Homo sapiens: one gene and its partners. The protein of the gene in region 1 purifies or fractionates together with the protein of each later gene. This does not show direct contact. Each region holds a gene or a part of one and is shown on either strand. Other genes may lie near its edges. The genes, in order: FAM76B, DDX42, CCNT1, PPIL4, PRP4K, NSRP1 and FIZ1.

Region 1 (2,165 bases):
TTTGACATAATTAAATGAATTCAAAGACCAACAGCTTCCCTTATCACACAGAAACAAATCACAAAATTTTCTACAATCTATATGCATTATCAGTTAGTTCTAAATGTAATCTCAAACATTTTACTAGCAACTTTGATTTCCTTTTGAAATAGGCTTCTGTACATATGCATTTATATACAAACATTTATTAAACATGATTTTAAAACAAAATGTATGTACAAAAGATCAGCATTCCTATAAATAAAAACATTAGGTGGCAAAAAGGCACTTGTAAGTAAAAATCTACAGTAGTTTTTACAAAACAGAAACACATTTTACCTTAGATACTGTACAATAAACATTAATTCCTATACCAATAATGAAAATGCTAGGTTACTAATGTTAATGATGTAACTTTAAAAAACAAATTTACATATATCTGAAGTTCATTTAATAAAAGCACCGTGATTTTCTCCTAAATTCATCTTGATGCAAAGTAAAAACACAATTCCCAAAAAACCAGTGTTCGCCATTTTTCGAGTTTAAAAGTTTTTGTATTTCTAAATTGAAAACTGTTTGTCTGAAATTAGCATAGTGTAAAACAAAAACAAAACAAAAAAACCCTGCTGCTCTGACTTCTGAAACCATACCTACTCTATTATTGCATGTTGCGTTTCATAAAGAGCACTACTCATGCACTCCTTTACAACTGTTTAATACTATTGCTGGCAAAAAAGTTCCTGGATATCAAATAATTAAAAAGTTACTTCAAACCAGTTGAAGTTTTATTTGAATGTTTTACAACTTAAAAAATGCTGTATATCAATTACAAAAGTGAACAGGAAACACACCAATTCATTTGGTGTGCAAAAATATTTTTCTACTACACAGAATTTAAGGGCTTCACAGAATTTTTTTTCCCCAAATTTACATTGTAAGAAGAAATGCTAAACAAATGACTTTCTCAAGGAGATGTTAGTATGCTTCCACTTTTGTCAAATTTTTTACCCTTTGATAATGCTGCGACCTGTTTGAGTAGTTCTCTGTTTTTGGCCTGTGGGAGACAAAAACATTCAAGATTAAAAATGTTTGAAATATTATTAAGTCATGCTGAAGAATACTACTTATTTAATACTGTTTTCATTTATATAAATGTTTCACTAAAGCACTAACATTAAATGAAAGAGTTGATACCTTTACATTCATCTCTTTAAGGATGAACATGCAGAAGGAAAATTCTAGATTGGCTCATCAGCCCCCTTTGTATATGTCATTATTAATATAATTGTGTCCAAAGATGCACAATTGGTTACAAAAAAGGAAACAAAGTGAATCCACTTAAAAGAAGGTCCAAATTTTAATAGGGAAAAGGTGTTTGGCCCTTCATCTTAAAAACATGAAAACTATGAAAATAAGTTGTAATTTACAATTAATAAAATCAAAGAATGAATCAAGATTTGGGAGGAGTATTTCCTGGCAAGCTGTATAAGGTCTTTTTTCTATGTTTACTCTCTTGTAGAACAAGCATAAGAGGTCATTTTTGCAAAAACAACTCAGAATTTGTTACTTTGCCAAATGCACCCAATGATATTCAATTTTTTTTAAAGCACCCATCAGAACCACTCATTATCTTGTTGTTCCTTTAGTTACCAGTCATCTGACACTGATTTTAGTGTGGTTTGAGCAGTTCCACATCATCATTTCCTATCTCATGAAAGCTTGAATTTTTACAAAGATTCAAAATTTCATTTCATCATCTGACTTGAATTTCATTATTAAATGTCCATCCATCACTAGTTTAGTGAAGAGGAATGTGTAAGTACAGTGAATATTTTCACATTTTGACTGCCTTTGTCACCTTATTCAGTCTCTTAAATATGAAAACTTAGATAGTAAGGATCCCTATATATACAAATACATTAATGATCAAGCATTTTTGTAGTTTGAGCCAAAATGGGGAAAGTGATGAAAATAGAGCACTGCCCTAAAATTAACACATTTTAAAAAGATATCCTCTGACTTATGTTTCAACACCATTTTCCTTCACAGGTTCCAGGAATTTTTATTATATAGACAGACTTTTTTAATCTCAGTACTTCATATTTTATTCTAATTTTAGCTTTTTACGGGCAGATAACACTCTGCCTTCTCTGTATGCCATCTTAAAGTGGTTTCATGAAATAACC
Region 2 (3,500 bases), on another chromosome or scaffold:
TTCTCAGAGCCCAGGCCAGGCCGCTCCCTGTAGCCTAGGCCTCCTCCACCAATGTTCAGCTTTTTTCCTTTCCCTCCTTTGAATCGAGATTTCCGAAACCAGGCATTCTGCATTGAACAAAATTCAAGGTTAAGTCAAGGGAGGGAGAAAAGAACAGAAGAAGAGAACGAGGACAAAGAGGAAATTAAGTGGGAAGGGGGAACTTTTGCTTAATTTTCAGCCAGCACTACGCTAAGGGAGGAATTTTCACAGGAACCACAGATTGGTTTCTCTTTGGTAGCATAATCCACCAAATTTGAAAAGTGGCTGAGATCCTTATCTAAGGCTTCCTACAGTGCTCCCTCCCTCAAGGCTCTCCTGGAAGGGAAGTTGTTCAGGTAAGCTTCAAACCCAGAGGAGTAACTTTGGCTACTTCTAACTTCCTTGAGGAAAATGAGCTTATATTTTATTTCTCAAACCATGTATTATTGGACGTAAACATTTGGAACTTAAACAACTGGTATGTTCAGAAGCAAAGGAAAAATGCTATGTGAAGTGAGGCTTATCAGAACTGACTATAGGGACAGACTCCCAGAAAGGATGGTAGCCACACAACTGAAAATTTTATTTACCCGCAGAGCGTAAAAGTTTTCATTGAACTTGACCATTGCCACTCAACATATTTACTCACATTCTCTTAAGAATGCAGGGCGGTGGCTCACGCCTATGAATCCCAGCACTCTGGAGGCCGAGGTGGGCGGATCACTTGAGGCCAGGAGTCAAGACCAGCCTGACCAACATGGTGAAACCCCGTCCCTACTAAAAATACAAAAATTAGCCAGGCATGGTGGCACATGCCTCTAATCCCAGCTGCTTGGGAGGCTGAGGCAGGAGAACTGTTTGAACCGGAGACGCAGAGGTTGCAGTGAGCTGAGACTGCGCCACTGCACTCCAGCCTGGGTGATAGAGTGTGACTCCATCTCAGAAAAAAGAAAAAAAAAAAAAAAAAAAAAAAGCAAATGTCTCTGGGAAGGTTAAAGTTTTATCTGACAATCACATATTACCAGCAAAATAAAGTGCTTGAGAGGTAGGGCAGCAGGCTTGGACAAAGTCCTGAGCACAGAAAGCCTGAGGTACAAAAAGAAATGGAAGAAAATGCCAAAGTCAAAATGTGTCCTGTTTTAAAAGTTTATTTAGGACTAGCTCTCTGTGCTCAGGAGCAGGGGAGGAAACATTATTCTCTTCTCTCCTGCAGTGCAGGTCCTTTACTCCTAGGACCAGAAACTTGGGCACTGCCACATTGCAGCTGGGTTGTACCAGTTGTGTGAGCTGGCCTAGGCATTTGACAAACTCTTAACAGTTTCTGCTCTCAGAAAGTGTTCCGAACCCATTTGTAATTTGGGGACAGCATGGATTCAGATGACTCCAGGTTTGATTTGTTAGAATGCCTCACTTAGCTTTAGATTGGAGCACACCTGGAAGAGGGCAATCAGTGTGGTCAGAGGTCTGAGATCTCTGCAAGGAACAGTTAAGAGGCACCATACAGGCTGGGCACGGTGGCTCACGCCTGTAATCCTAGCACTTTGGGAGGTTGAGGCCGAGGCGGGCGGATCACCTGAGGTCAGGAGTTCGAGACCAGCCCGACCAACATGGCAAAACCCCATCTCTACTAAAATTACAAAAATTGGCCAGGCGTGGTGGTGGGCGCCTGTAATCACAACTGCTTGGGAGGCTAAGGCAGGAGAATTGCTTGAACCCAGGAGGCAGAGGTTGCAGTGAGCCGAGATCGTGCCATTGCACTGCAGCCTGGGCGATAGAGTGAGATTCTGTCTCAAAAAAAAAAGGTGGGGGGGCACTATACTATACACATATTGTTTTAAAGGCATCACACATTTTTAGCCTCCCAGAAGAAAAATTTTGTGGGGGAAGAGCAGTAAGGAGAATAGTAACCATCTTTGAGATTAAATTTACTCCTAAGTGTGCTATGGGGTAGAAATTACAGCGACAGATTTTAGCACAAAGGAATAGCTTTTCAAAACAGATGCTGTTGAAAGAAGAAGACCAGATAAGACTAGATGAATTTTAGTATCTCACAATTCCTATCTGTACCTCATAAGCCCCACATCCTCCTAGCCACCCAACTTTCTTGTCAAGTTTTTATGTTATCTGTTCCAGGACTGCTAAAATGTCTTGGTCTTATAACCAGGAGCAATTGAAAGTGTGCCCAGCCCCTCACCTGCATTGCCAGATCTAGGAGTTCCTTAGAAACGTGTTGATTGGCTCCTTCCAAGTTCCGGACCAGGTCACCAGCAAAATTGCTGTCCTTGGGAGTGAGTAGGGTATAGGCCACACCTTTCTCACCCGCTCTTCCTGTGCGGCCAATCCTATGCGTGTGGGTATCAATGTCTCGTGCCACATCATAGTTAATGACAGTCTTAATTGAAGGAATGTCCAGACCACGGGCTGAAATAAAAAGCAACCAAATTCTTTTATTCTTCATCTGTAGTCAGAAGATCAAAGTAACCAGAAATGCTAGTGCTAATAAGCCACATTTCCTTTATCTAGGCAAAGCGCATGGGTTTGGTGAGCTGAGATACAGGCATGTTAAGTCACCACCACAGATTCTATGATGTTAGGCCTTCTAGTGTAAGGGACTTTTATTTTTTAGAGACGGAGTCTTGCTCTGTTGCCAGACGGGAGTGCAGTGCCATGATCTCGGCTCACTGCAACCTCCGACTCCCTGGTTCAAGCAATTCTCCTGCCTCAGCTTTCCAAGTAGCTGGGATTATAGGCACGCGCCACCACACCCAGCTAATTTTTGTATTTTTAGTAGAGACGGGGTTTCACTATGTTGGCCAGGATGGTCTCGATCTCCTGACCTCAGGTGATCCGCCCGCCTCCACCTCCCAAAATGCTGGGATTACAGGTGTGAGCCACCGTGCCCGACTGGGACTTTTATCTTTTGCATCAGTAATCTGCCATGCCCTCTTCTCTTGCACTGGGAATATATATTTAAAATGTGTCATGAAGCTGAGAAGTTCTCTCCTTTCTAGGAAAAAATATCAGTGTTTAAGGGTAGTTATTAAAACTTGACAGAACAAATCCAGAAATTATATTCCAAAAACTGTTCTCATCCTGAGTTAAGTTGCCCAACTAAGCTGTGTATAGTAGATCAATGTAAGGGTAAGGTATCTACTATATTCAGACATACAATAAGGGCATTCACTGCCTTTTTTCCCAGAGTGACTTCTAGCTGCAGGGATTCTTTGATTAGAGAGAAATACTAAGTGAAAAGTGGTATCTAGAGCTCCAGACTGTGATCCCTGTGCTGAACTGCTGCTTCCTTGGGGGTTTGGGAGGGGATGGCCAGCCAGGCCAACAGTCTTTCCATCAGCCTGCTCAGATATTATAGGTCTTATGTAGTAAGACAGAGTACCCTTATAGCCTAGGAACTTAATGTTGTTGAAAAATTCATACTCTACCTGCAACATCTGTGGCCACCAGGACTGGGATGTCCTTTT
Region 3 (3,500 bases), on another chromosome or scaffold:
TTACAAAGGTATTAGAGGCTGGGCGTGTTGACTCAGGCCTGTAATCCTAGCACTTTGGGAGGCCGAGTTGGGTGGATCATTTGAGGTCAGGAGTTCGAAAACATCCTGGCCAACATGGTGAAACCCCGTCTCTATTAAAAACACAAAAATCAGCCGGGCATGGTGGCGTGCACCTGTAGTCCCAGCTACTCACTTGGGAGGCTGAGGCAGAATTGCTTGAACCCGGGAGGTGGAGGTTGCAGTGAGCTGAGATCGTGCCGTTGCACTCCAGCTTGGGTGACAGAGTGAGACTCCATCTCAAAAAAAAAAAAATGAAGAAACCCAAAGATATTATAATAAATTCCCATGGTAAAAATTAAGACAGTACAGAAATGTATGTGGAAAGTGAAAACTACTCTGTAATCCCACCCAGAGATAACCATTGATAAATGTTTGGTTTATAGTGACCCAGACATTTTTCTGTGCACATAAACTAGCATTGAGGTATTTTTATTTAAAAAATCATATCTTGCTATGCTACTGTTGCACAGCTTGCCTTTATCATGTAACAGTATGTATTGGACATCTTTCCATACTTCCCTTTATTATTTTTTGGATTTCTTATTATTTTAATTTGCCACATGGTATTTGTGTAGTTACTGTAGTTTATTTAACCAGCTTTTTATTGATAGCTATTTGGGTTGTTGTTCTAGTTTATTATATTGTACATTATGTTTCATGGGATAGTCTTGTACATATATAGTGCACTTATATAAGCATTTTAATACAAGTTCCTATAGGTGGAATTGCTGTGCCCAGAGTATACAATGTATAAAAATTTTTGTAGTGTCAGTTTGCCCTACTGAAAGATTATACATTGTTTCCAGCACTGTAGGTGAGGGTCCTTTTCTTTCCACCCTAACAAACAACAAATATTAATTACCTCAAGAAACATTTATCTAGTTCTTTGTTTTTGAAACGGAGTCCCCTCTGTTGCCCAGGAGTGCAGTGGTGCCATAATTTAGTTTAGTTTTATTTTGGTTTTATTAGTTTATGCCATACTTTTAGTTTCTAATAGGCTTAAAACCTTAGTCTTTGACTTGTCCTTTTCCCCTTTGTTCAGTTAGTTATAGTCCCCCCCAACCCCAAGATAGGTTTTTACTCTGTCACCTAGGCTAGGCTGGAGTGCAGTGGTACAATCATAGCTCACTGCAGCCTCCATGTCCTGGGCTCAAGTGATCCTTCCACCTTACCAAGACTACAGTGCCACCACGCCCAGTGAATTTTCCTTTTGATTTTTTGTAGAGATGAGGTCTTGCTATGTTGCTCAGGCTTGAGCTCAAGGGATCCTCCTGCCTTGGCCTCCCAAAGTGCTAGGATTATAGGCAAGAGTCTGCACCCAGCCTATAAAGTCTTGCTAATTTTATAATGTTACCATTTTTTCCCTCTCCTTATAAATATGTACTTTTTAAATTATCAAAAAATTGGAAGAGGACGGACAGGAAATAAAGAGATAATCCTGTTAACATTTTAGAGTATATCCCATTAGAATTTTTTCTTTGTATGCAAGTACATGTACATATATTTAGTGCAGCCCTATTAGTTTTACAAAGTGATGCCTGTGTTTCTTTTTTCCTTTATTTCTACTGCTAGTGTCTAAACTTTTTTTTTTTTCTTTTTTTGAGACAGAGTCTCGCTCTGTGGCCCAGGTTGGAGTGCAATGGCGTGATCTTGGCTCACTGCAACCCCCACCTCCTGGGTTCAAGCGATTCTCCTGCCTCAGCCTCCCAAGTAGCTGGGACCAAAGGCGTGTGCCACCACTCCTGGCTAATTTTTGTATTTTTAGTAGATATGGAGTTTTACCACGTTGTCCAGGCTGTTCTTGAACTCCTGACCTCAGGTGATCTGCCTGCCTTGGCCTCCCAAAGTGCTGGGATTACAGGCGTGAGCCACCACGCCCGGCCTACTCTAAACTTTTTAAAATTCTTTTTTCTATATTTTAAAATAATTTTTAAAAAACAGAGACAGGGTCTCATTGTGTTACGCAGGCTGATCTTGAACTTTGGGCTCAAGTGATTCTCCTGCTTTGGCCTCCCAAAGTGCTCTAAACTTTATGTCCTAATGCCTAAATTATTATTTAAGTTAACTTTTATTTTATTTTTTGAGACAGTATGGCTCTGTTGCCCAGGCTGGAGTACAGTGGCATGATCTTGGCTCACTTCAACCCCTGCCTTCTGGGTTCAGGCAATTCTCCCGAGTAGGTGGGACTACCCTACTACAAGACTCCTGAGTGGTGGTGTGTGCCACCACGCCCGGCTAATTTTTGTGTTTTTAGTAGAGACGGGGTTTCACCATGTTGGCCGGGCTGGTCTTGAATTCCTGACTTCAAGTGATCCGCTACCTCGGCCTCCCAAAGTGCTGGGATTACAGGCGTGAGCCACAACACCCAGCCTGAATTAACTTTTAATGTATCCCATCCTTTTCTCCTAGTTTTACCTACCATCAGATTACTCCTTCTAAATATTACTTTGTTTTAAAAATTTATTTTTATTAATTATCATGGGTACATAATAGTTATATACATTTATCATAAACATTTCTTAAACGATATTTTTCAAAATCTTTAGTGTCACTCTTGTTAAGAATCTTGGCTGGGTGAGGTGACTCACACCTGTAATCCTAGGACTTTGGGAGGCAGAGACAGAATTACTTGAGCCCAGGAGTTTGAGCAGCCTGGACAATGTAGGGAGACCCCATCTCTATTAAAAATAAAAATAAATTAACTGGGTGTGGTGGCGTGTGCCTGTGATCCCAGCTACTTCGAAGGCTGAGATGGGAATATCTCCTGAGCCCAGGAGGTTGAGTGGAACTGTGATTTTGACGCCACTGCACTGCAGCTGGGTGACAGAGTGAGATGCTGTCTCAAAAAAAAAAAAAAAAGAAAGAAAAAAAATCTAGTGTTCCACATCCGATTATCTAATGTATTTAACTACTCAGTTTAGTATTGAAAATGTGCTTTACGCCTAGATCACCATACCTTTGTTCATATCCATTTTTCTCTGATCCTGTTTTGTTTATCCTAAAGTCTGAGGAATATATATGTAGTATGCTTCATATTCATCTGAAACAAATGTGAAGGAAAAGAATCACTGTGTTTACTTAAAACAGTTTTTTCCGTATGTGTATGGAGATGGAGTCTCTCTCACTATGTTGCCCAGGCTGGTCTCGGACTCCTGGGCTCAAGTGATCCCCCGCCTCTGCTTCCCAAAGTGCTGAGATTATAGGCTTGAACCACTGTGTCTGGCCTAAAAAAATTTTGTTTTAAATTATTTTTGTCTCCTATGGTCTTGTCTGAAATCAATACTATGAGTTGAATTTGTGGAGAAAAACTTACTCTAGAAAAGTATAGCATAGGTGACATCAGGGTTACAAATAAGTATTAGAATATCAGTTCTAGTCAGTAAAATGAAATATATATTTAAATTCTGTAAAATTATTTATGTATTTCTTTGACTCCTGGT
Region 4 (3,500 bases), on another chromosome or scaffold:
AAATTAAAAAAATTAATTGAAAATACACATTTTAATGAGCACACTGTGTATCTCAGAGTATTGACTCTGAACACCCAACACCAAGACAAATTCTAAGAGAATTACTACACTTGAAAGATATGTTGAACAATTGGGCAGAAAGAATAAGTTACTTATAAGGGAATGAATTTAGATTGTTATCAGACTTTTCCACAGCAACACTTTGGAAGTTTATGCCAGAAGAAAATAGATTAACATACTTTTTAAAACTTTTTGTTTTCAGATAATTTCAAATTTATGGGAAAAAGTACATAGAACTTCTATATACCTTTTACCCACATTCACCAATTTTTAACATTTTGCTACATCTGTTTTATGATTCTCTCTTTTTCTCTCTCTCTGATTATACAAGCACATAAACACACATTTTTTTTCTCGACTATTTGACAGTAAGTTGCCTGTTATTTCCCTTTACCTCTTAATCAGTGTGTATTTCCTAAGAGCAGCAGTATTCAATGTGTATAACAATATGTACGTATTCACAGTGTAGTTACCAAAATCAGAAAATTTAGAAGTGACAGAAATTACAGTTTATAGGGCCGGGCACAGTGGCTCACGCCTGTAATCCCAGCACTTTGGGAGGCCGAGGCGGGTGGATCACGAGGTCAGGAGTTCGAGACCAGCCTGGCCAACATGGTGAAACTCCGTCTCTACTAAAAATACAAAAATTAGCTGGGTATAGAGGCATGCGGCTGTAATCCTAGATACTCAGGAGGCTGAGGCAGGAGAATCGCTTGAACCCAGCAGGCGAAAGTTGCTGTGAGCCGAGATCGCGCCATTGCACTCCGGCCTGGGCAACAGGGCGAGACTCCGTCTCAAAAAAAAGAAAAAAGAAATTACAGTTTATATTCCAATTTTGCCAGTTGTTCTAATAATATCTTTTATAATTGTTTCCTCCTCCAGACTAGAATCCAGCTCGTGACTTATCATCTGTTGCATTTATTTTGTAGAATATTTTCCTTTTTTTTTTTTTGAGACGGAGTTTCTGTTGCCCAGGTTGAAGTGCAATGGCATGATCTCGGCTCACTGCAACCTCCACCTCCCAGGTTCAAGCGATTCAGCTGCCTCAGCTTCCCAAATAGCTGGGATTATAGGTGCCTGCCACCCACGCCTGGCTAATTTTTTTTTTTTTTTTTTTTTTGAGACAGAATCTCGCTCTGTTATCAGGCTGGAGTGCAATGGCACGATCTTGGCTCACTGCAACCTCTGCCTCCCGGGTTCAAGCGATTCTTCTGCCTCAGGCTCCCGAGTAGCTGGGATTACAGGCGCCTGCCACCACATCCAGCTAATTTTTTGTAATTGTAGTAGAGACAGGGTTTCACTGTGTTGCCCAGGCTGGTCTCCAACTCCCGACCTCAGGCGATCCTCCTGCCTTGGCCTCCCAAAGTGCTGGGATTACAGGCATGAGCCACCGTGCCCGGCCAATAGAATATTTTTCAATTTAGGTTTATCTACTCTTTCCTCATGATTAGATTCAGGTTATGCACCCACAGCCGAAATAGTACGTGAGTGATGTTGTGTCCTCAGAGGTCACATCTGGAGGTGTACGATATTCATTGGAAGATGAGTAATTTTGGTCACTTGGTCATGGTAGTCCACTGCCTGGTGTCTCCAATAGACAATCTGTGGCTAGACACTTGGAGATCTTTCAAATGTCTTGTTCCTTGTCAAATTTCCCCCATAAATTTCTCAGCCATTCATGATTCCTGACTGCACCAGTTTTGACTCTGCTAAGTGCAAAGTGGTAATTATGCAAAGTGGTAATTTCCCACCCCCACCACTTTTTCCACAATTACCAACCTGCATTCTACTGTAAGGAAGAGCCCTCCCTTCTTTTTTTTTTTCCGAGATGGAGTCTCGCTCTGTCACCCAGGCTGGAGAGCAATGGCGCAATCTTGGCTCACTGCAACCTCTGCCTCCCAGGTTTAAGCGATTCTCCTGCCTCAGCCTCCTGGGTAGCAGGGATTATAGGTGCCCGCCACCACGCCCAGCTAATTTTTGTATTTTTAGTAGAGACAGGGTTTCACCATGTTGGTCAGGCTTGTCTCAAACTCCTGACCTGGTGATCTGCCTGCCTCGGCCTCCCAAAGTGCTGGGATTACAGGTGTGAGCCACTGTGCCCGCCTGAGCCCTCCCTTCTTAACTGCTTATCTATCCGTTCATTATCCGTGTCTCATGGATTCTTTTTTTGGCTTTGTTTTTAATAGACAATTTGTAGAGCAATTTTAGAATTACAGAAAAACTGAACATAAAGTACAGAGAGTTTCTAAGTACTCCCTCCCTCTTTCCCCCAGTCTTGCATTATTGTGACACATTTGTTAACAATTGATGAGCCAATATTGATACATTATTAATTAAAATCCATGATTTACGTTAGAATTCAAGCTTTGTGTTGTACATTCGGTGGAACTGACAAATGTACGATAGCATATATCTACCCTTACAGGATCATTCAAGGTAGTTTCACTGTCTAAAAAATCCCCTGGGCTCCACCTGTTCATCCCCACCCCCAACACCCACTTCTTGGCAACTACTGATGTTTTTACTGTCTATATAGTTTTGGCATTTTCAAAATGTCATATAGTTGGAATTATAGCGTATGTAGCCTTTTCAGACTGTCTTCTTTCACTTAGCAATATACATTTAAGGTTCCACTGTGCCTTTTTTCTTTCTTCCCTTTCCCTTTCTCCTTTCCCTTTTTCTTTTTCTTTCTTTTCTTTCCCTCCTTTTTTTTTTTTTTTTGAGACGGAGTCTCGCTCTTGTCGTCAGGCTAGAGTACAGTGGCATTATCTCGGCTCACTGCAACCTCTGCCTCCCAGGTTCAAGAGATTCTCCTGCCTCAGCCTCCTGAGTAGCTGGGACTACAGGCACGTGCCACCGCGCCCGGCTAATTATTTTGTATTTTTAGTAGAGACGAGGTTTCACCGTGTTAGCCAGGATGGTCTTGATCTCTTGACCTCGTGATCTGCGCGCCTCAGCCTCCCAAAGTGCTGGGATTACAGCATGAGTCACCCTGCCCGGCCCTTTTTTTAATTTTTTTTAATTTTTTTTTATTTGAGACAGGTTCTCGCTCTGTTGCATGGACAGTGGCACAATAATGGCTCACTGCACCCCGACCTCCAGGGCTCAAGTAATCCTCCTACCTCAGCCTCACAAGTAGCTGGGACCACAGGCGTGTGCCACCATGCCCGGCTAATTTTATTTTTTGTAGAGACAGAGTCTCACTATGTTGCCCGGCCTGGGATTTCATTTCTTTCTTTTTTTTGTTTTTTTTTTTTAGAGAAAGTCTCACTCTTTCACTCAGGCTGGAGTGCAGTGGTGCTGTCATAGCTCACTATAACCTTGAACTGAGGTTGAGCAGTCTTCCTGCCTCAGCCTCTTGAGTAGCTGGGACTATAGGCACACGCCACCACACCTTGGTAATTTTTAAATTTTTTTGTAGAGATGGAGTCTTACCCATG
Region 5 (3,500 bases), on another chromosome or scaffold:
CCTCCTGGGTTCAAGCGATTCTCCTGCCTCAGCCTCCCAAGTAGCTGGGATTACAGACACGCACCACCATGCCCAGCTAATTTTTGTATTTTTAGTAGAGACAGGGTTTCACCATGTTGGCCAGGCTGGTCTTGAACTTCTGACCTCGTGATCCGCCCACCTCGGCCTCCCAAAGTGTTGGGATTACAGGCCTGAGCCACTGTTTATTTTCATTGCATTTTAGCAGACAACACTCTGTTCTTTTTATACTAGTTTACTTTATCCCATCCATTTATATATACATATATATACACATATATGTGTGTTGTTTTTGTTTTGTTTTGTTTTGTTTTTTTGAGATGGAGTCTCGCTCTGTCGCCCAGGCTGGAGTGCAGTGGTGTGATCTTGGCTCACTGCAACCTCTGCCTCCTGGGTTCAAGCAATTCTCCTGCCTCAGCTTCCCCGAGTAGCTGGGACTACAGGTGTGCGCCACCACGCCCGGCTAATTTTTTTTTTTTTTTTTTTTTTTTTTTTTTTTTGATATTTTTAGCAGAGATGAGGTTTCCCCACGTTGGCCAGGCTGGTCTCGAACTCTTGACCTCAGGTTATCTGCCTGCCTTGGCCTCCCAAAGTGTTGGGATTACAGGCGTGAGCCACCGCACCCAGCCCATTTATATTTTTTAACTGGTCTTTTGAGGCTGTGCGTGTATGTGAGCAGATTAAATAAAAGAGTTTCCTCAGATGGCCCTATCAAGAAGTAAGCACTACCAAGAAGTAAGCACTACAGATCTGAATCAAAGTCTACCTTGCTCATTTTGGCTGGATCAGAGAAGGATTCTTGGGTTCTGTATACCGTGCTGAAACATGCAAGGCAGGTTGTGTTTTTAGGTTTTTATTAAATGAGGAAGGCAAGTTGCAGTGGCTCACGCCTGTGTTCCAGCACTTTGGGGAGGCTGAGACGGGTGGATCACCTGAGGTCAGGAGTTCGAGACTAGCTTGACCGACATGGAGAAATCCTGTCTCTACTAAAAATATAAAATTAGCTGGACGTGGTTGCTCATGCCTGTAATCCCAGCTACTCAAGGCTGAGGCGGGAGAATCTCTTGAAGCCGGGAGACAGAGGTTGCAGTGAGCCGAGGTCACACCATTGCACTACAGCCTGTGCAACAAGAGCAAAACTCCATCTCAAAAAATAATAATAATAATAAATGAGGAAAATACTGTAATATTATTTGATTATGGAGACAAACCTATTTACAATCTGACTGTTCAGATTGAATAGTTGTGACCAAACCTGGAATAACATTAAGAAATGTTCAAAACCTGTTTTAAAAAATTAAGCTGTAGAAAGGCCTGTTGTAATACAAATATCACATTAAACAAGAGTAAAACTCACTGAAAGGTACTTGTGTGATAAGTGTTGAAAAGTTGGGTTTTTGTGGGGTTTTTCTGGGGAGACTGGAGGCAGGGTCACACTCTGTCACCCAGGCTGGAGTGCAGTGGCATGATCTCTGCTCACTGCAACCTCTGCCTCCCAGGCTTACACAATCCTCCCACTTGAGCCTCCCTATTAGTTGGGACTATAGGCACATGCCACCACACTTGGCTAATTTTGATATTTTTTGTAGAGATAGGGTTTCGCCATGTTACCCAGGCTGGTCTCAAACTCATGAGCTTAAGTGATCCATCTGCCTCAGCTTCCCACAGTGCTGGGATTACAAGTGTGAGCCACCACACCTAGCTATTGTTTTTGTTTTTTTGAGACAAGTTCTCACTCTGTCACTTGGGCTGCAGTGGCACAAACACAGCCACTGCAGCCTCAACCTCATGGGCTCAGGCGGTCCTCCCTCAGCCTCTGAAAGTGCTGGGATTGCAAGTGTAAACCATTGTGCCTGGCCTATTATACTTGACATTAAAAAGAAGATTTTTGCCCGGGCATGGTGGGTCACACCTGTAACCTCAGCACTTTTGGAGGCCAAGGGAGAACCACTTGAGGCCAGGAGTTCGAGACCAGCCTGGGCAACATAGTGAGACCCCCATCACTACAAAACAAAATATTAGTCAGGTGTGGTGGCATGCCCTTATGGTTCCAGCTGCTCAGGGGGGCTGAAGTGGAAGGATTGCCTCAGCCTGGGAGGTCAAGGCTGCAGTGACCCGTGTTTGCGCCACTGCACTCCAGCCTGGGTGACAGAGTTAGACCCTGTCTCAAAAAAAAAAAAAAAAAAAAAAGATCCTTAATTGGAGAAATGTCAGGATGTAGAAAGAAAAAGTCGTCAATGAAAATGGAATATTTGAGTAAATGGAGTATTATACTCACTTGGGGAGGTTTTATTTGAGTTGGTTTATTTGAAATTAGAATCAGTGACTTTACCGGTATGAATAACCTTTAGTAATTTTTCAAACTGTGGGACCAGAGGAAATAAGACCTTTCATTGTTTGCCTGCAATAACACCAAAATATCACTGTAGTCACCTGAGTAAGTTTTGTTACAAAACACATTAATCAAAGTTCACTTTCTTTAGGCTAATGTGCCTTTTCTTACAGATGTTCTTTGCATATAGAAAAAAATCATTTACTTTGATTTATATTTCTTTTAACTTGCATTTGATCCCCTTAAGAACACGACCTCGAGATGATATCCTCAGTAGACGTGAAAGATCAAAAGATGCCAGCCCCATCAATAGATGGTCTCCAACCCGAAGAAGAAGTAGATCTCCCATTAGAAGGAGGTCTCGTTCCCCACTCAGACGTAGCAGGTCTCCAAGAAGAAGAAGCAGATCTCCTCGGAGAAGGTAAAGACATTTCATCCTTGTGATTCATTAAACTCTGAATGTTTTTGAACCACCAGTGAGCTCACTTGGTAGGTTTTCTTTTAGACCAGTTTTCTCTGAAAAATCGTAGTTGTGTTCCCATAGTTTCCTTTTACCAGCAATCTCTACACATGGGTTTTCTTTTATATCGTTTCCTTTGAATTTTAAACAAATCATTGCTCATTTAGGATGCAATAAAATTAGTCTTTTAAAAATAGGACTTTTTTCTCTCTTTTATCAATCAATACTAAATGAGCCAGACTTAGGGATTTTTTTTTTTTTTTAACCAGCAAGGTAGATCATGTAGTAGTAAATATATAGCCCAGTTTCTTACATTTTATATTAATTTTGCATATTGATAGTTACTGTAGACTTAGGCAAAGGCCTATTTAATTTGCCATAGAAACCATTTTATCTGAAGCATATGTAGTCAGTAATAGGTTAAAAAGGTGGTTTATAAAGCAGGGAATCATTTTTTAAAATTCATACATACATGAAATATTTTAATATAAAACATAAATGGGTATTTGTTTGCCAATCTTTTAACATTTTTAATTGAAGTAATAAATGAATATAATTTTTAAGAAACAAAGGCTTATATTATAGCCATCTTTACATATCTCTCAGAATTTTTGTATGCTGTATTCCTAGAAATGGAAATGCATGGTCTGAGTGCACTCTGGTCAATGAGGGGTTTTATTTTATTTTATT
Region 6 (3,500 bases), on another chromosome or scaffold:
ACAACAGGCGCCCGCCACCACGCCTGGCTAATTTTTTGTATTTTTAGTAGAGACGGGATTTCACCGTGCTGGCCAGGATGGTCTCAATCTCCTGACCTCGCAATCCGCCCGCCTTGGCCTCCCAAAGTGCTGGGATTATAGGCATGAGCCACCGTGCCCAGCCATTTTATTTTTTGAGATGGAGTCTGGCTCTGTCGCCAGGTTGGAGTGCAGTGGCGCTATCTCAGCTCACTGCAATCTCCGCCTCCCGAGTTTAAGCAATTCTCCTGCCTCAACCTCCCCAGGAGGTGGGATTACAGGCATGTGCCACAATGCCGAGCTAATTTTTGTATTTTTAGTAGAGACAGGGTTTCACCATGTTGGCCAGGATGGTCTCCATCTCCTGATCTCATGATCCACCTGCCTCAGCCTCCCAAAGTGCTGGGATAACAGGCGTGAGTCACTGCGCCCAACCTACTTTATTTACTTTAAATTAATTTAAGTAGCTACACGTGACTAGTGCCTACATACTAACAGTGCAGTTCTAGCCCCGATATGTAAGTCTTACATTTTAGGAAGGCTGGGTTCTATTTATGAAAACAAACCACTTTCCTTTTTATACACTATCTGAACATGTATATAAGACTTATATTGTAGACACCTAATTCTTTCCAACTTTCTCCTTAATTCTGACAGCAAAATCATTTTAAGGTACCAGGCACCAATCATTTTAAGGATCATGAGGAATACCCACATTCTTATTTAAAAAAAAAAAAAAAAAAAAAAAAGCAGCCAGGTGCAGTGGCTCATACCTGTAATCCCAGCACTTTGGGAGGCTGAGATAGAGGGGGGATCCCTCAAACCCAGGAGTTCAAGACCAGCCTGGGCAACATAAAGCCCCATCTCCACAACAAAAATACAAAAAGAGGCTGGGCGTGGTGGCTCATGCATATAATCCCAGTACTTTGGGAGGCCGAGGCGGGTGGATCACCTGAGGTCAGGAATTCGAGACTAGTCTGGCCAACATGGTGAAACTCCATCTCTACTAAAAATACAAAGATTAGCCGGGCGTAGTGCATGCACCTATAGTCCCAGCTACTCAGGAAGCTGAGGCACGAGAATCCCTTGAACTTGAGAGGCAGAGGTTGCAGTAAGCAGAGATCGCGCCATTGCACTCCAGCCTGGGTGACAGAGCAAGACTCCATTCCATCTAAAAAAAAAAAAAACAAAAAAAAAAAACCACACACACAACAACAACAACAAAAAACACAAAAAGAAAATTCGCTGGGCATGATGGCTTGCACCTGTAGTCCCAGCTACTTGGGAGGATCATTTGAGCCCATGAGGCAAAGGCTGCAGTGAGCTATGATTGAACCACTGTACTCCATCCACCCTAGGCGACAGAGTGAGACTCTGCCTCAAAAAAAAAAAAAAAAAAGAAAAAAGAAAAAACTACAATTTGATTTTGCTTTCCCTTGAAGATTTTGCTCTCCCTTGTTAAGACCCATAAATCACTTAAAAATTCAGAAACTTTATACATTAAAAGTCTGTCTTTGGTTTTACAATAATATTAAACTCAATCACTGTTTTAATGTAACAATTTCTGTGAAATGCAGAATAAAAATGATCTTAAACTAAATCTGTAGGTTTTAAAATCAAGAAACTGCAAATTTCTAGCCATTCATTCAGTTAGGTAAGGCTGGCTGACAACACAATATGCAATGTTGTAATCTTCCATCTTTCAGAGGGTTAAAATGACCCCACAACCACAGATTATTAACAGTATTTTTCTTCAAAATATTTCATACACGTCTCCTCACCTGGCTTCACGAAAGCTGCATTTAGGTACTTCCTCTTCACCAACTGCTTGATTTAATAGGTGCCTATAAAATCCACTGAGATCTTTCTGCTTGGTTACATCCAAACATGCTAACAGAGGGAAAGCAAAAATTAGAATATATTCAATAAGGCACAGTGCAGTTTCATTTTACAGACATACAGTATATAACATACAGTGTGTAAACTACTCGCTGGATCAGGAGTTGGCAAACTGCAGGCCAAATCTGGCCTGTTGCCTGTTTTCATAAATAAATTTTTATTGAAACAAAGCCCTGTTCATTTATGTATTGTCCACAACTGCTTTTGTACTACAAAGGCAGAGCTCAGTAACTGCGACAGAGATCATATACACAAAAAGCCCTAAAGTATGAATATGATCTGGCATTCAAAATATGAATTTATAAATTTAAAGTCTTAAAATATGAATACTAAAATACTATCTGGTCCTTTACAGAAAGTTTGCCGACTGGCACTCTAAACACATAGTACATGCTTAGACAGAATGTTATAGACTTGGTTTTCTTCTACTTAAAAGCTGAAGAGGATGGGCGCAGTGGCTCACGCCTGTAATCCTACAACTTTGGGAGGCTGAGGTGGGTGGATCACCTGAGCTCAGGAGTTCGAGACCAACCTGGCCAACATGGTAAAACTCCGTCTCTATAAAAATATAAAAATTATCCAGGTGTGGTGGTGCATGCCTGTAATCCCAGCTACTTGGGAGCCTGAGGCATAAGAATCACTTGAACTTGGGAGGCAGAGGTTGCAGTGAGCCAAGATCATACGACTGCACTCCAGCCTGGGCGACACAGCGAGACTCTGTCCAAAAAGCTGATGAGCATTTGTCAATTAAAGTATTTACAGGGCTGGTCATGGTGGCTCACACCTGTAATGCCAACACTTTGGGAGGCTGAGGCAGGAAGATTGCTTGAGCCCAGGAGTTCGAGACCAGCCCCGGCAACATAGTGAGACCCCGTCTCTACAAAAAATACAAAAAGTAACCAGACGTGGTGGTATGTTCCCGTAGTCCCAGCTACTCAAGAGGCTGAGGTGGGAGGATCACTGGAGCCTGGGAGGTCAGGGCTGCAGTGAGCCATGGTTGAGCCACTGCACTCCAGCCTGGGTGACAGAGACCCAGTCTCAAAAAAAAAAGTATTTTATAAATACATATTCTACTTAGATCTTGAGAAATAATCATGAGTAGAAAGCACTAAGGTAAAGCATTAAGATATTCTTAATTCATCCAATTTTTATTCTTTCTTCAATTAATGTTATTCTTTTTCTAATTGCCTCATTGATCCTCCTTGAGTGGTGTTACTCTATTATTTTCTCATCCCAAAAAAATGTAACTAGGGTTTAAAATTATATTTATATTGTTTCTGACAAATGCCATGGCGTTATACTTTGTAATAAATGTTTTTACATTTCAGATCATGTTCTAAGGCAAAAGCCACAAAATGAGAACTAAGAGAAAAGTCTAGTAGAAATAATAGTTACTGAAGAGTTCAACTGTGTTTTTAGTTAAACTTTCCTTTCTGTTTTATACTGCTATATAATACCATATTCCTTGTGTCTTGAATTCCTATATATAAATTATGATCACAAACTCATAACCCTAAAGTTCAGTGACAGAGCAAACAGCTAACCACAGGGGAGAGATTCTGCTACTGTTTCCTTGTGCCTTT
Region 7 (2,821 bases), on another chromosome or scaffold:
AAGGCCCTGAGGAAGGAAGGAGTGTGCTGTGTTCCAGGAAGCGATGGGAGACTGTGGGGTTGGGGTGGAAGGAGGTAAGGTGAAAGATGGGACGGGCTAGGTCACACTCTGTCTATGTGCCAGACACTTGCACAACCAGGGTGAAGAAAACCAGGCATCTACCGATGGTCTTTCACACTTGGCTGTCCTCTCTGTCCCCATGCATCTGCCTTGGTTCAGGACTTCACATCCTGAATGTTGGCCCCGGCTTTCTCAGTGGTCTCCCTCCTTCCTGTCTCTCTCCCTCACATCCAGTCTCTGCATCTATCACAGAGTGACCAGGTGACCCCTGCTTAAATCCCTTGATCCTTAGGATGAAAGGGGAGCTCCTTAGCTTGATGCAACAATTGACAGTCCCCTGAGGGGCCTCACCCCCACCCACCAGTAGGTTGTGATTCAACTGAACCATTTCAGGAGCACCTACTGTATTTAGATACAGTGCTAGGCTCTCTGGGGGAAAAAAAATAGCTAAGGGAACAAAACAGATACAGTCCACCCTTTGTATGGCCTCGAGTCAAATGTGGGAGATGTGAACTGAACAACTAGGTTAATCAATGTTAGGCTGCAGCCGAGACATCTGAGGATGGAGGATAACCATATTCTGAGGCTAATGCAAGAGAGAGCTGAAGCAGTCTGGATCGGGGATGGGGTCAGGGATGGTTTTCCCGAGAAAAAGGTGAGGAATGATCTGCCTCTGGGGTCCGAGGCTTTCCGGATCCAGGGAACAAAATGTGTACTTTCAAGGAAGCAAAGCAGGCTTTGGAGGAACTGGAGGAAGGCCAATGTGACTGGAGCATGGAGAAGCAGAAAGTGTGGCTCAGGAGAAGTCTGGAGAGTGCCGGACCCTGGAAATACAGCTGTGAGCAAAACCAATGTGGTCACTATTTTTATCGTCCTTAGCTGGTGGGGAGACAGACAACACTCAAGTTATATGTAGACACTAAGTGTGCTATGAGCCATAGGCTTTAAAGAAGGAGGGTGGAAGAGGATCACTGATGAGCCAGGGGGCCAGATTCCGGGAAGGGTTTCCAAGGAGCTGACAGATAAATAGACCTACGGGCATTCCAGGCAGTGAGAACAGCATGTACAAGGGCCCTGGGACCAGCATAATCTTGTTGTGTTAAAAGAGTAGAGAGAGAATAAATTTAGTGACAAAGAGGATAGAGATCCCTACACCCACACTGTACAGCAGGTGCATCGAGTCTGGAGCCAGAAAGGCAAATGAACATCACTCCCTGTTCCTTCTTCAGATCTGTGCCCCTGGCAGACATTACTAATCAAGCACTGCACTCTTTCTCATCCAGCCTCACCCTTCTCCTCACAGGCCTCCAGGAAGACATTACCATACTCACAAATCTCTCTCTGTTATTCCAAAATCTTAAATCAACAAGGACAAATATCAATACAAAAAACCTCTCTAAGGCACGGTTTTACACAGTCTACAAGCCTGGCAATGCCTCAGAAAAAAATACAGATTCCTGGACTCCCTCCTGGGAGATTCGATTCCCTAGACTTGGAAGTGATTCCCTGGATCTGTATGTGTGAAAAGCGTTCAGTGGGAGAAACTCTGAGCAGTAGCCGGATTCGGTTCAAAATCACTTCTCTGCCCTAACACACCTAAGGCCTGTATTCAGCTCATGATAACTGGCTCGGGATAGCAGGGCTTGACAAGGGAGAAGACACACCCTGCTAGGGCTGGCTGCTGTGTCACTTTAGAGCTGCACTGTCCAGTATAGCCATTAGCCACCGATAGTGATTTCTTTTTTTTTTTTTTTTTTTTTTGAGACAGAGTCTCGCTCTGTCGCCCAGACTGGAGTGCAGTGGCGCGATCTCGGCTCACTGCAAGCTCCGCCTCCCGGGTTCATGCCATTCTCCCGCCTCAGCCTCCTGAGTAGCTGGGACTACAGGCGCCCGCCACCACGCCCGGCTAATTTTTTGAATTTTTAGTAGAGACGGGGTTTCACCGTGTTAGCCAGGATGGTCTCGATCTCCTGACCTCATGATCCGCCCGCCTCGGCCTCCCAAAGTGCTAGGATTACAGGCGTGAGCCACCGCACCCGGGCTTTTTTTTTTTTTTTTTGAGACAGAGTCTCGCTCTGTCACCCAGGCTAGAGTGCAGTGGCACGTCTTTGGCTCACTGCATCCTCCACCTCCCGGGTTCAAGTGATTCTTCTACCTCAGCCTCCTGAGTGGCTGGGACTACAGGTCCCTGGGACTACCCGCCACCAGGCCCGGGTAATTTTTGTATTTTTAGTAAAGGCAGGGTTTCACCATGTTGATCAGGTTGGTCTCGAACTCTTGACCTCAAATGATCCACCCACTTCAGCCTCCCAAAGTGCTGGGATTACACACGTGAGCCACCGCACCCAGTCGTGTTTTTTTGTTTTTTTTGAGACACAGTCTCACCCTGTCATGCAGGCTGTAATGTGGTGGCATGGTCACGGCTTACTGCAGCCTCAAACTTCTTGGCTCAGCCTCCCAGGTAGCTGGGACCACAGGAGTGTGCCGTGTCCAGCTAGTTTTTAAAATTATTTGTAGAGACAAGGTTTCCCTGTGTTGCCTGGGCTGGTCTCAAACACCTAGGCTTATGCAATCCCAGAGTGCTGGGATTACAGGCGTGAGCCACCATGGCCAGCCAGGACATGGCCTTTTTAAGGACCGAAAGAATCTACCGTGACCCCAAACAGAGAGTGATAGGACGAGCGTTTCCCTAGATCATGGCCCTGTAGGTGTGACAGAGAGCTTGTGCCACAACCCTCTGGGAGTCCAGGAATCCGTTGTC

Evidence for each region.
Region 2: the proteins of FAM76B (region 1) and DDX42 purify together in Homo sapiens (affinity purification with mass spectrometry, with the first as the bait; one large-scale study listed by BioGRID). This does not show direct contact.
Region 3: the proteins of FAM76B (region 1) and CCNT1 purify together in Homo sapiens (affinity purification with mass spectrometry; one large-scale study listed by BioGRID and IntAct). This does not show direct contact.
Region 4: the proteins of FAM76B (region 1) and PPIL4 purify together in Homo sapiens (affinity purification with mass spectrometry, with the first as the bait; one large-scale study listed by BioGRID). This does not show direct contact.
Region 5: the proteins of FAM76B (region 1) and PRP4K purify together in Homo sapiens (affinity purification with mass spectrometry, with the first as the bait; one large-scale study listed by BioGRID). This does not show direct contact.
Region 6: the proteins of FAM76B (region 1) and NSRP1 purify together in Homo sapiens (affinity purification with mass spectrometry, with the first as the bait; one large-scale study listed by BioGRID). This does not show direct contact.
Region 7: the proteins of FAM76B (region 1) and FIZ1 purify together in Homo sapiens (affinity purification with mass spectrometry, with the first as the bait; one large-scale study listed by BioGRID). This does not show direct contact.

Annotation. Positions count from the first base shown.
Region 1 is NC_000011.10:95,770,618-95,772,782, forward strand, and holds part of FAM76B (protein FAM76B), read right to left. Parts: intron 1,034-2,165; coding exon 944-1,033; 3' UTR 1-943. UniProt on the Homo sapiens protein: Negatively regulates the NF-kappa-B-mediated inflammatory pathway by preventing the translocation of HNRNPA2B1 from the nucleus to the cytoplasm.
Region 2 is NC_000017.11:63,812,170-63,815,669, reverse strand, and holds part of DDX42 (ATP-dependent RNA helicase DDX42), read right to left. Parts: coding exon 3,462-3,500; intron 2,443-3,461; coding exon 2,216-2,442; intron 108-2,215; coding exon 1-107. UniProt on the Homo sapiens protein: ATP-dependent RNA helicase that binds to partially double-stranded RNAs (dsRNAs) in order to unwind RNA secondary structures. Unwinding is promoted in the presence of single-strand binding proteins.
Region 3 is NC_000012.12:48,706,708-48,710,207, reverse strand, and holds part of CCNT1 (cyclin-T1), read left to right. Parts: intron 1-3,500. UniProt on the Homo sapiens protein: Regulatory subunit of the cyclin-dependent kinase pair (CDK9/cyclin-T1) complex, also called positive transcription elongation factor B (P-TEFb), which facilitates the transition from abortive to productive elongation by phosphorylating the CTD (C-terminal domain) of the large subunit of RNA polymerase II (RNA Pol II).
Region 4 is NC_000006.12:149,529,044-149,532,543, reverse strand, and holds part of PPIL4 (peptidyl-prolyl cis-trans isomerase-like 4), read left to right. Parts: intron 1-3,500. UniProt on the Homo sapiens protein: PPIases accelerate the folding of proteins. It catalyzes the cis-trans isomerization of proline imidic peptide bonds in oligopeptides.
Region 5 is NC_000006.12:4,034,800-4,038,299, forward strand, and holds part of PRP4K (serine/threonine-protein kinase PRP4 homolog), read left to right. Parts: intron 1-2,597; coding exon 2,598-2,771; intron 2,772-3,500. UniProt on the Homo sapiens protein: Serine/threonine kinase involved in spliceosomal assembly as well as mitosis and signaling regulation. Connects chromatin mediated regulation of transcription and pre-mRNA splicing.
Region 6 is NC_000017.11:30,179,316-30,182,815, reverse strand, and holds part of NSRP1 (nuclear speckle splicing regulatory protein 1), read right to left. Parts: intron 1,909-3,500; coding exon 1,800-1,908; intron 1-1,799. UniProt on the Homo sapiens protein: RNA-binding protein that mediates pre-mRNA alternative splicing regulation.
Region 7 is NC_000019.10:55,593,697-55,596,517, reverse strand, and holds part of FIZ1 (flt3-interacting zinc finger protein 1), read left to right. Parts: exon of another isoform or gene 1-622; coding exon of another isoform or gene 623-898; intron 899-2,821. UniProt on the Homo sapiens protein: May be a transcriptional repressor of NRL function in photoreceptors. Does not repress CRX-mediated transactivation.